Regions from separate parts of the Homo sapiens genome. Here regions 1 and 2 are each linked to region 3. The links come from fine-mapping of genetic effects on gene expression. A gene starts in region 3. Each other region holds a variant in brackets. All regions are shown on one strand. Distances are from middle to middle. Region 1 overlaps FERRY3 (FERRY endosomal RAB5 effector complex subunit 3). Region 2 has its middle 19 kb from the start of FGF6. Region 3 holds the start of FERRY3 (FERRY endosomal RAB5 effector complex subunit 3).

Region 1 (4,000 bases), 43 kb after region 3:
CATAAACTCAGATAATAATTCTTATATCTGAATTCCAAGACATACAGTGAAGACTTCAAAAGAACATACTGGCTAACTCTGCAGTTCAGCCTTACCCTAATGAGAGGATTCAAGTTGAGTAACAGTGAGCTTTAGATAGAAGGCGTTGTCTCAGTTATAGTCAGAACTGAGATTTCAATTTCATTTTCATAGGTTTAGAATCTTCTTTGCACATGTCATCTAAAGTGTGACAGTAGGGCCCAATTTTTGGCCAGTTATAAAGTCTATAGTGTTTCACCTGATCCTTCCAGCTTCATTGGATTTCTCTAACAGTGCATTCTCACAGGCATGTTACTAAGATTTAGTCACTTTTCCATTATTTAGAACTTATGATCAAAAACTTTCTGTACTGTTACCTGGCCCACTATGTTGTCTATACCATCTATTATATCATATATACTAAGATTTGTTTCCAGAAGTGAGCTCCTTGTGAAACTGCTGACCACAACTCATGGTGACATTGAATAAGTCATTCTTCTCATGACCTTATTGAATTCTAAAGCTCACAGTTTACTTTTTCTAAGTACCCAAAGCCATTCTTTTTAGGTGCTGGTTTTAATCAGAGACAAAAGGACAGGATTAAAAAACCTTGCAAGCATCTATCTTAAGCTAACGGTGGAGTCTCTATGGAGGCACATGGAAGATTTGAAAACAACTCAGACGTATGTGTGTGTGTGTTTGTGTGCGTGCACATGCATATACAGGTAGCTGTCTAGTTTCCTCTTAGAGTCATACGCTGCTAAGTGGCATTAAGTTAAAGTATACTGAATATGAGAGTTTATATCATCTGAGAATTAAATTTATTTTTAAAATATGTCCGTCACTTCAAAGATTTGCTAGGGTCCTGTCACAAATTGGTATTTTGGTATATTCTCTAAATAGCATTGATGAAATTTTGTCATTAATTCATACCAAATTCTGAAAAGTGTGAAGTTCTTAATTTGTATCACAAATACTTGCTCTAGACCATGCTATTAATCACACATATACACAAAGCAAGAAAGCAGGGTATTAATGAGGAAAACGTGATGACCTTTGGACAAGTGGGACAACGAACTTCATTACTCTTCCCCTACCTACTTTTGGTCATACCATTTAACCCATCCCTATTTTAACTTGCGTTACAATCTTTCATTATTACCATTAGTATCCTAATTTTAATGCATTGGAATAATATGTATTCTATTTGTGGGTATTCAAAACTAGCCCTTCAATAAGCTCTATGCTTACAGTTCACATTAGTTGTCCTCCTGTGACTAGTGGTGCTTAGACTTGACCTTAGCCTGAAATAATTCAAGGCTAATCATAGATGTCAGTAAATTCTGGATTATAAGAAAAGTTACTGTCAGAAAATGCTTTTTTATATTTAAAAATGAGTGCTTCATTAAAACAGTATAAATAGTACTAATTCCTTGATTCTGATTACTATCATAGTATTTCAAAAAATGATTGGTTTTAGAGTAATATTTTAAGATGATACAAATAGTTATACAATAGTATTTATTCCTACATGTGGGTTCTTGAATAAAATGTTTAACGTAAGTGAATAAGTAGGTCCTTAATGAAATTAGATGCCGTGAATGAGAATCAGCAGAAACAACTGAACATAAAAACAGATGCACAAAGACTTGAAGCACTGGAATTATAAAACACAGACCATACAATAGTTGATTACTGTGTTTAAAGAACTGAAGACAAGCTTGAAATGCCTTCAAGTAAAAAGATGTTATGAAAAGTGATCTGGCAACTATAAAACATTGCTGAGAGATATTTTAAAAGACCTAAATAAATGGAAATATATCC[C/T]GTACTCATGGATTGGAACACTCAATATTGTCAAGATAATAGTTCTAAAATTGATCTATAGATTTAAATCTCAATTGGAATTCTTATAAGGTAATTTTGAGATTTTGACAAGCTAATTCTAAAATGTATATGGAAATGCACAGGACCTGAAACAGCCAAAACAATTTTGAAAAAGAACAAAGTTAAAGAACTTACACTAACTAATTTCAGAACCTGCTATGAAGTTACAGTAATCAGTGCAATGTGATATTGGCAAAAGAATAGACTGTGGATCAGAAAACAGAATAAAGCATCCAGACATAAATCCATACATATATGGTCATTTGATCTCCAGCAAAGATGCCAAGGCAATGCAGTGGGAGAAAGGATAATCTTTTCAGTGTTGTTGAAACAACTGGGTATTCGTATAGAAAAGACAATCGTAACCCTTACATTATATCATATATAAAAATTAATTTAAAATGGATCAGACCTAAACAAAAGAGCTAATATTATAATGCTTCTAGAGGAAAACATAAAAGAAAATCCTGATGACATCAGGTTAAGCAGGTTAAAATTTGTTAGGCCACAAAGGCATAAGCCATAAAAGACGAACGTAATAAATTATATTTTAAAATTCAAAACTTTAGCTCATCAAAAGATGCTATTAAGAAAATGAAAATTCAAGCCTCAGGCTGTCACATAAGCAATTCGCTGTACCTCTCTGAGCATCTTTTTTTTTTAAATTTATAAAGGTTATTTTTGTTAGATTATTTATATTGTAAAGTTCCATGTAAACATAAGACATTATTATTGTAGTTTTTAGAGCCATCAGCATTGCTCCGTAGCGGTAGACATTTATTTATTTATTTATTTTTTGAGACGGAGTCCTGCTCTGTTACCCAGGCTGGAGTACAGTGGCGTGATCTCAGCTCACTGCAACCTCCGTCTTGCAGGTTCAAGCAATTCTCCTGCCTCATCCTCCCAAGTAGCTGGGATTACAGGCGCCCACCATCATGCCCAGCTAATTTTTGTATTTTTAGTAGAGACGGGGTTTCACCACGTTGGCCAGGCTGGTCTCGAACTTCTGACCTCAGATGATCCGCCTGCCTCGGCCTCCCAAAGTGCTGGGATTACAGGTGTGAGCCACCACTCCCGGCCAGCTGTAGACATTTCTTAGTCACCTCGTTCTCTCTGTACATCATCTTTTCACTAGGAGGAAGTAATACAAAAAAACCAAACACTTGTCCCTCCATGCATGTGTGTACTCCATAAGACCACTGTAGCTCTTTTGTAGCAGCCTTTGCAGTTAGAAGGAAATACTCTTCTTTCTGTGAACTTTGAAGCCAAAGTGTTATAACTTAAAGTGGAATATCAGAAAATTCTAGTGAATTTTTAGAAGCTTCCAGAACCTAACCCAAGAGGATTCTTTACTTTTTAGCCAACTAAAAAACTAGACCTTTCTTTAATCAATCTTAAAACAAAGTGTCTTGGACACAAATTTAAAAGTAGCTTCCTATTAAACCCTATTTCTGGCTACAGAGAAAGTCACATTCTTTTTAAATGTCCATGGATAAAAGCTAATTCACTCAACCTATGTTTTTGAGCATGTGTATTGCTCAGTATTATAGAAGGCATTGTAAAGGTAATAAGGGTGAATAAAAAGTGGCTTCTACCTTCAGAGAGCACACAACTTAATCAAGAAGAGAAAGAATAAATCCCATTCTTCTGCCCATTCCTCTGCCCTCCTCCCCAAAAACGACAGGATAAAAATGTGAGCATTGAGATAAAAGAACAGTAAAGTACTTTGGGAGTTCAGAAAATGGAGACATATTTGTAGCTGGAAAAATAGGAAATACTGTATGGAGGAGATGGCAATTAAGCTGGACATTGAAAAATGAAGATCAGGTTCAATAGATGGAATTACCGAGAAGGGCATTGTAGGTAGAAGAAACAGATTGAGGAAAAATGGAGGGAGGTGGGTGACAGGCATTGCAGACCATGTTTAGGCAAATGTGAGCAGATATACTTGAATGAAACCTTCATTTTTAAAAATTTAAAAGTCACAGAAGCTTAAAGTAGCTTTGGCTTTAAAGTATGTAGCCTTAAATAGTAAAAGAAAGGCTTACATATTATGTGTGAGACAGTAGGAAGCAATTGTAAGTTCTTAAAACAGGAG
Region 2 (4,362 bases), 74 kb after region 3:
TTCTTTTCCACAATCTCACAAACCCTTGTTATTGTCTATGTTTTTTATTATAGAGCCTTTCTAGTGGGTGTGAAAGGATATCTTATTGTAGTTTTTATTTGTATTTCTCTAATGACACCTCATCTATCACCTCATGCATTTATCATTTCTTTGTGGTGAGAACATTCAAAAGTCTCTCTTCTAGCTATTTTGCGATATACAGTATTTTACTATTAGCCATAATCACCCCACCATACAATAGAACACCAGAACTTATTCCTCCCATCAGTGGTGACTTTGCTCCCATTGACCAACCTCTCCTCATCTGCTTCTTCCCCTTCCCCTTCCCAGTCTCTGGTAACCACTGTTATACTCTCTGCTTCTATAATATCAACTCTTATGTTTTTAGATTCCATATATAAGTGAGATAATGCAGTATTTGTCTTTCTATGTCTGGTTCATTTTACTTCACATGGTGTCTTCCACGTCCATCCATGTTGTCATGAATGACAGGATTTCATTCTTTTTATAGCTGAATAGTATTTCATTGTGTGTGCGTATATATATATATATATATTTCTTTCTCCATTTATCTGTTGATGGACACTTACATTGATTCCGTATCTTCATATCTTGGCTATTGTAAATAGTGGTGCAATAAACATGAGAGTGCAGATATCTCTTTGGCATACTGATTTCATTTCCTTTGGACTTACACTTTGTAGTAGGATTGCTGCATAATATGGTAGTTCTACTTTTAATATTTTTAGGAAACTCCATGCTGTTTTTCATAATGGCTGTACTAGTTTACAATTCCACCAACAATGTGTAAGTGTTCCCTTTTCTCCACATCCTCACTAACACTTGTTTTCTTTCATCTTTTTTACAACAGCTATTCTAACTGGAGTGAGATGGTGGCTCACGGTAGTTTTGATTTGCATTTCCCTGATGATTAGTGATGTTGAGCATTTCTTCATATGCCTGTTGGCCATTGGTGTGTCTTCTTTTAAGAAATGTCTATTAAGGTCTTTTGCCCATTTTAAAATCAGACTTTTTTTGTTTTGCTTTGCTTTGTTGTTGTTGTTGTTGTTTTGCTGTTGAGTTCTTTGAATTCCTTATCTATTCTGGATATTAATCCTTGACAGATGTATACTTTGCAAATACCTTCTCTCATTCTGTAGGTTGTCTCAACTCTGTTTTTTTTTTTATTTTTGTTTTTGCTTTGGAAAAGCTTTTTAGTTGGATATAGTCTCATTTGTCCATTTTTGCTTTTGTTACTTGTGCTTTTGAGGTCTTATTTAAAGACTCCTTACCCAACCCAATTTGTGAAGTAATTCCCCTATGTTTTCTTATAGTAATTTCATAGTTCTGGGTTTTACGTTTAAGTCTTGAATCCATTTTGAGTTGATTTTTGTATACGGTCTTGTATACGTAGTTGGTTTTGTACATGTAGAGGTAGAGGTTTAATCTGAAGACCACCTGCTGCAGAATCCCTTCTTGCTCAGGGGAGGTCAGTCCTTTTGTTCTATTCTGGCCTTCCACTGACTGGGTGAGGCTCACTCACATTATGGAGGAGAGCATGCTTTATTCAAAGTTTACCCATTTAAATGGTAAACTTATCTAAAAACAGCCTCGCAGGGACATCCAGAATAATGTTTGACCTAATAGCTGCGCTCCGTAACCCAACAAAGTTGACACAAAATTAACCATCACAAATGACTATGCATTTATTTAGATCTTTTAACATTTCTCTCAGCAATCCTTTGTAGTTTTCAGTGTGTAAGTTTTGAATGTCTTTGGCTGAATTTATTCCTAAGTATTACATTTTTTTTGCTGCTATTGTGAATAGAATTATTTTCTTAATTTCACTTGTAGGCTGTTCGTTATACTACCAACTTTTTTGTGGTGGTGTTGTTGTTGTTGTTGTTAACTCCTTGGGACTTTCTCTCCAGAGAATCATATTCTCTGCAAATACAGTTTTTCTTCTTTCTCTCCAATATAGAAGACTTTTACTTCTTTTTCTTGCCTAATTGCACTGGTTAGAACCTTTAGTATAATGTCAAATAGAAGTAATGACAGCAAATATGTTTGACTTGTTTCCAATATTAGGGTGAAAGTATTTAATCTTAAACCATTAAGTATAATGTTAGAATAGGTTTTTCACAGATGCCCTTTACCAAGCTTAGGCATTTCCAGTTTGTTCTTGATTTTCTGAGAGTTTTCATTAGGAATGGATATTAATTCTGTCAAATGCTTTTTCTGTGTACATTGAGATTATCATAACCTTTTTTTGTTTGTTAAATGGTGAATTACATTGGTTTTTGAATGTTAAACTAAGATTGCATTTTTGGGAAAAATCCCATGAAGTTATGATATGTTATCCTTTTATATATTGTTGTAACTGATTTGCTAAAATTGTATTAAGAATGTTTGCATCTGGCCGGATGCAGTGGCTCACGCCTGTAATCCTAGCACTTTGGGAGGCC[G/A]AGGCAGGCAGATCATGAGGTCAGGAGATCGAGACCATCCTGGCTAACATGGTGAAACCCCGTCTCTACTAAAAATACACACGCAAAAAAATTAGCTGGGCATGGTGGCGGGCGCCTGTAGTCCCAGCTACTCGGGAGGCTGAGGCAGGAGAATGGCGTGAACCCAGGAGGTGGAGCTTGCAGTGAGGCAAGATTCTGCCACTTGCACTCTAGCCTGGGCAACAGAGCAAGACTCCGTCTCAAAAAAAAAAAAAAAGTTTGCATCTATGTTCATGAAAGATATTGGGCTATAATTGCTGTTGTTTGCTGTTATTATTTTAATTCTAACGTTTTTATCTGGGTGTGGTAAAAATGCTGGTTTAATTGAGAAGTATCCTCTTCATCAATTTTCTGGAAGAGTTCGTGTAGAACAGATATTATTTTTTCCTTAAATGTTTGGTAAAATTTACCAGTGAAGCCATGATCTACTTGGGTAAATGTACCATGTGCCCTTAAAAATAATGAGTATTCTGCTATTACTGGATGGAGAGCTCTTGAAATTCATATTAGATAAGATTTGTTGATAACCTCCATCCCTACTAATTTTCAGTTTACGTGTTCTATGACTTATTGAGACAGAGTATTGAAATCTCTGACTGTAGTTGTGGATTTGTCTATTTCTTTCTGTAATTATATCAGTTTTGCGTCATGTTTTCTAAAATTCTACTATCAGGTGCATAAATAGTTATGATCGTTATGCTCACTTCTATTATTTGACCCCTTTTCCATTATGAAATCACCTTCTTTGTTGCTTATAGCATTCTTTGCTTTGAAATCTATTTTGGCACTCCAGCTTTTAGACACTCAAGCTGTCTCTTGATTTATTTTTGAGATATTTGTATCTTTATATTTACAATGGCTTTGTTCTAGGCAACATACATCATCATTCTGTTTTATCTAATATGCCAATCTCAGCTGTTAATTGACATATTTGTACTATTTGTATTTAATGTGATTATTGGTATGACTGAGTTTAAATCTAACATCACTATTTTTCTATTTGTCTTATCTCTGTTCCCTTTTTCTTCTTTTTCTGCTTTTCTTTGAGTTAACTGAGTACTTTTAAACATCCCATTTTTGTTGACTTATTAACTGTAAGTCTGTTATTCTTTTAATAGTTGCTTTACAGTTTATAGCACATTTTTAACATCACAGTCCACCTTCAAGTGTCATTCTATTACTTCCTGTATAACATAAGAACTTTATAACATTTGTCTCTTCCTGAACTTTCTGCTATTGTCATAAATTCTATTTCTACATGTATTATAAACTCTACGCTACATTGTTATTATTTGTGTTTAATCAATTATGTCTTAAATATACTTAAATGACTTTTTAAAAAATCTTATATATTTGCCAACATATTTACCATTTTGGGTGCTTTTCATTCCTTTATGTAGTCTGCATTTCTATCTGGCATCATTTTTCTTCTTCCTAAAGGACTCACTTTAATATTTAACTCTTACTGGCCGCAAATGTCATCATTTTGCCTTTTTAAAATATATTTTGTTAGGCATAGAATTCTAGATTGACTGTTTTCTTGCAGTATTTTAACGATGTTGGTCCCTGTCTTCTTGCTCTCAATATATCCTACAAAAATGTATGGTCATCCTCAACTTTGTTTTTCCCTTTGGTTGCTTTAAGATTCTTTTTTTTTTTTTTTTTTTTTTTTGCAAGATGGAGTCTCGCTCTGTCGCCAGGCTGGAGTGCAGTGACACGATCTCGGCTCACTGCAACCTCTGCCTCCCAGGTTCAAGTGATTCTCCTGCCTCAGCCTCCCAAGTAGCTGGGACTACAGGTGCGTGCCACCACACCCAGCGAATTTTTATGTTTTTAGTAGAGACGGGGTTTCACCATG
Region 3 (4,294 bases):
AAGTTTCCAGGGACCCACAGAGGTCTGTAGACCATACTTTAACAACTGCTGTTCCTTACAAAGGGATTATGACTCCACTGCCTGGATGCTTAAAACCCATTTCAAATTCAGCATGTTCGAAACAGAAATCTTGATCCCTCACACCTCCTAACCTTCCTTTTCCTAGTCTTCCCTATCTTAATACAAAGATCATCCATCCTGTAGCTCAGACCAAAACTATTGTGGAGTCATCTCTGATTCTTTCTTTCCCTTACCTGTACATCTACTTCATCAGCAAGTTCTGTCCACAGTGCCTCCGAAATACATCCCAAATTCATCTGTTCCATTCCATGCCCACTAATAATACCCTATCCCAAACCGCTCTCCAATGATATAATACCTGATTTTCCTGCTCCCGTTCTGGTCACCCTATCCATCATTTATTCTCCACCAACAGCCAGTGACCTTTATAAAAGCAAACTTAGATTCCTCTCCCCTACTTAAAACCCTCCACTGACTTCCCATTGACTTAAAATAAAACCTAAACTCCTTTCTAAGACTTACAAGACCCTATCTGTTCTGGCACCTGCCTATTTCTCTGGCCTAATCCCCCTACGATTCTCCCCACTGCTTGTTAATCCTATAGCATTAGACTGTCCCTAAAATATGGTCAAGTATGGGGCCTTGGCTCCTATTCCCTCTACCCTGATTCATGACTCAGTGCATGCATTATCGCCTCAGAGTCACATATTAACTACTATATTTAAAGTAGTGCTTTCCTCTTTCGCACTCTCATATTTCGAGGCTTATTTTCGGCCCCCTAACCTCACCTCCCACTGGAATGTAACCTCCAGCACCTCGTACACTAAAGAAGTGAATATATTCAATAACTTTATTAAATGAATGGCTAACTATAGGCTTCCATGGCACTCAACTGTGTAAATAGAAGAATCGTTTCTAATACCACGATGGAAAGCACAGAGGATCTTGAGTGAGATGACTTAGGTTTGAGTATTGCCCTGCCACTTACTGGGCTGTATGACTCAGATAACTTACCCTCTATACGTAGAAATGTTAAATCAATACAACAGGAATGCTTACTCTTTCTATATCAAATAACTACAGTGATAAACAAATAAAATAACACATAATTGGGCGCTCGGTGAAATGTAAAGCGCTGTTCAAACGCTAACAAGGTCTTGGTAAAAGAAACGGCGACGGTTGTGAAGGGAGGCAAAGAGAAGGAAAAAGCTACGATGCTAGGATACTTCTGAGCAACGGGTGGCTCTCACTGGAGACTGGGTTCTTGATAACCGTCCATCCTAACCCCACCATCGCTGCCCTCCGGTCTTACTCGATCCTTTCCCCTTAGTCTCATGTCTTTTCCCTTAGTTTTCCTCCCACCCCCGACGAATGTCAGGAACTACCCACCTCACAGGCCGCACCATGGTCCCTTTCAAGGCTTGGTATTTACAGTTCTCAAATTCTTGTTGGCTTCAGCGGCGGTTTCAATTCCCGCCCAAAACCAGACTTCGGAGCCCTCCGCCCCCTGTTACCAGTCGTCCAATCATCACCAGCCATGCTTGCGGCGGCGCACGCGCTGTGGGGAAAGCGAATTTGCTCCCGCCCTCCCCAAGGCACCGCTTTTCCGTATCCGGTCCACCAGAGCCGAGTTTGTGCTTTGTCCCTGCACTTTCGTCACAACGGCGGATTTGCCCTGTCTCTGAAATACAGAATAACAATAGAAATACACCTTATTGCACCTTTCAAATTGTTAAATTGAAACAGGTTGGGACATAGGGGCACTTGGACTGAGAAATTTTCTACAAGATGCCAGGAAATAGAAAAGGATGTGGCGAATCTACGTTCGCGGATCCGCGGTGTGGAAAAAGTATGTCGGCAAGTCAGCTGGTTTCCCAGTGCAGGACGCGCTGACAGCTCGAGTGAGCGGACTGCCCAGGACTTCGGAACTAGACGAGGTGAGCCCAGAACCGAGTGAGGATGCCCTTTCAGACTGACAACCGTTACAGAGGGATTAGTCCCCTCACCCGGCTGAAGTTTCTCAGCTCGACCGTCTGTCTTCCTTTTCCCTGATTAATGTGAGCCTCAGAGCCTCCGCTCTGTTGGCTGTGTGTGTTCGGTCCAGACCTTCCATCCCATTTTCTTATGGGAAACCTTCCTGGATTTCACGGTTGCTAAAACTGAACCCAGGCTTCAGGATAGACCATTAGTCTAAAAAAAGAGCGAGAGGAGAAAGAACTAAAGTTATCAGTTTCTTGAAACACAAGTCTAAATGTTGAACCAGAGCTTTTGTGTCTGCCTTCTCTTTTTTTTTTCAACATTCCTGATTCATTCATATTTTTGCATTTATCAGTGGTTGATTCTTTTTTATTGCTGTGTAGTATTTATCTCATAAAATAAACAAGTTTACTATTCTCCTACTAATACGCATTTTGGTTGTTTCCAGTTTGGGGTATTATAAATAAAACTTATATGAGCATTCTTCTGGGTGTACTTTAGCGAACATATGCGTGTGTGTGTATTTGGATATATACTTAGGAATGAAATTTCTACATCATAGAATATACCTTTATGTAGTTTTGGTAGTTTTCTAACATTATAAAAATTTGTATTGCTTTACGTTTAATTTTAATTCTTTCTGAGTAAAACAAATACCCTATCTCTTTGCATTATGGTGAAATAGACGAAGATTTTTGTGTATAGCCTACATACAGATTTGAAAATATAGTCTGGATAATTCAACTTAGCCCCGCCCCACGACATGTACAAAAGTCCTTTGAGTTTTTTTTATATTTCAGGTGATATCTTTTTAAATAACCGTATGAATAATTTTTTGTTCTTTATTTTTCCAGTGAGCACCATAAAATAAAAACGCCATACAATCCAACAATTATTTATTAGTTCTTGCCATTCGCAACATCCTGCCTAATACATGGAATACAAGACAGTATTCCTTCCACTTCAAGAAGACTGTTTTCTAGCCAAGAGTAAGAAATAGAGCGTGATAAGTGCCATGATTCAAATAAGTCTAGGCTAATATGAGAGCCTGTCGGGACCCAATCCAGTTTTAGGGAGTTGGATAAGTCTTCCTAGAGGCTTAACTGAGACCTGAAGAATTAGCAATTGTTATCCAATGAAATTAAGATCAGTAAGAGTGCTCTAGGCAAAGGAAAAGGCATTCAAAAAGATTCGGCATGGAAGGAGAAGTTTGGTGTTGACAGAAGTTCAGAATGGCTGGAAAATAAAATTTGTGAATTTGTGTATTAGGAAGGAGAGGTGCAGTTTCTGAGAGAAGAGTGGAAATATAAGCAGGGGTGTTGTAAACTGGGATAAAGAGTTTGCATTTTATCCTGAGAGCAATGGAATGTCATAGAAAGTTTTTAAGCGGATGAACAACATGATCAGATAAGTATATTCCTTTTTTAAAAAGGAAGATTACTATAACTTCAGTGTAGAAAATAATGTAAGAACTGATTTGATGGGAGAAAGCCTAGCCATAGGAAGTCCAGTTACAAGGCTGATGAATAAATAAATCTTTAATTGATGTTGATTCTTACTGCCTTTAACTAGATTTTCTTCTTCCTTAGTAGTGTCTAGTTTGCCTTTGGGGTGTGGGCCGGAAGTGGAGGTCCTGTACTCTCTCTTTTCTGTGTATCTTCTTCCCACATGGAAATCTTTCTAACACTTTCTTACTCCCCTTCCCCCAGTCGGATCTCATGACCACAACCTCTAAGTTCTCCAGGATCACTCCTTGGTCCCTGATCTGCTTCTTTGACTTTCTTTTTACCAACGGTTTCTTAAGCTTTGTATTTCCCCACCCATGAACTCTCCCTAAGAATTCTCTCTGCTCTTCTCTCCATGGTCCTTCCCTATTATTGAGAACCCTGCCTTGGAATATAAAGTACTTTATGGCCATAATTTTTTTTCTTAAATCAAGTTTAAAACAAAGTGTCTTTTTTTTTTTTTTTAAAGAAGCACTTTGTTTTCATCATGAAGATGGAAGTACAGGGATAAACACTTGGGAAAAACTAGAATAATTGGCTCATAGACAAAATCTCTTGAATGGTGGAATGTTTTCTTAGAAATGGGACAGCAATAATGAAACATAATTTCTTTATGGACTTATAACCTACTGCTTTTTTGTTAGTTCTGTAGAAATCCTGTCAAAGAATATGAAGAAAAACAGAGAAAGATTCTGCAATAGAGAGAGAGAATTTGTATATAAATTTAAAGTAGGAAGTCAGTGCTTAGAACTGAGAGTGCCACTCAAATTTCCTGTTCAAGAGAATGCCAG

Evidence for each region. PIP is the estimated chance that this variant, and not a neighbour inherited with it, causes the effect.
Region 1: its variant is the best candidate, but not a certain one, in a credible set for the expression of FERRY3 in blood mononuclear cells (TOPMed, PIP 0.76).
Region 2: its variant is the best candidate, but not a certain one, in a credible set for the expression of FERRY3 in whole blood (INTERVAL, PIP 0.63).

What each region holds. Positions count from the first base shown.
Region 1 is chr12:4,492,793-4,496,792 of GRCh38, reverse strand. The region is part of intron 11 of FERRY3 (FERRY endosomal RAB5 effector complex subunit 3); the gene reads left to right. Among named protein-coding and RNA genes, the nearest start is that of FERRY3, 44 kb to the left of the region's middle. The variant C/T (reference allele first, on the strand shown) is at 1,843.
Region 2 is chr12:4,462,277-4,466,638 of GRCh38, reverse strand. No RefSeq gene overlaps it. Among named protein-coding and RNA genes, the nearest start is that of FGF6, 19 kb to the right of the region's middle. The variant G/A (reference allele first, on the strand shown) is at 2,466.
Region 3 is chr12:4,536,073-4,540,366 of GRCh38, reverse strand. FERRY3 (FERRY endosomal RAB5 effector complex subunit 3) reads left to right here and starts at 1,898. Exons shown (of 14, transcript NM_020374.4): 1 at 1,898-1,958; 2 at 4,148-4,294. The coding sequence starts at 4,173. RAD51AP1 (RAD51 associated protein 1) reads right to left here and starts at 1,477. Exons shown (of 9, transcript NM_006479.5): 1 at 1,411-1,477. The coding sequence starts at 1,427. RefSeq lists enhancers at 1,045-1,653, 1,654-2,263 and a silencer at 1,869-1,918.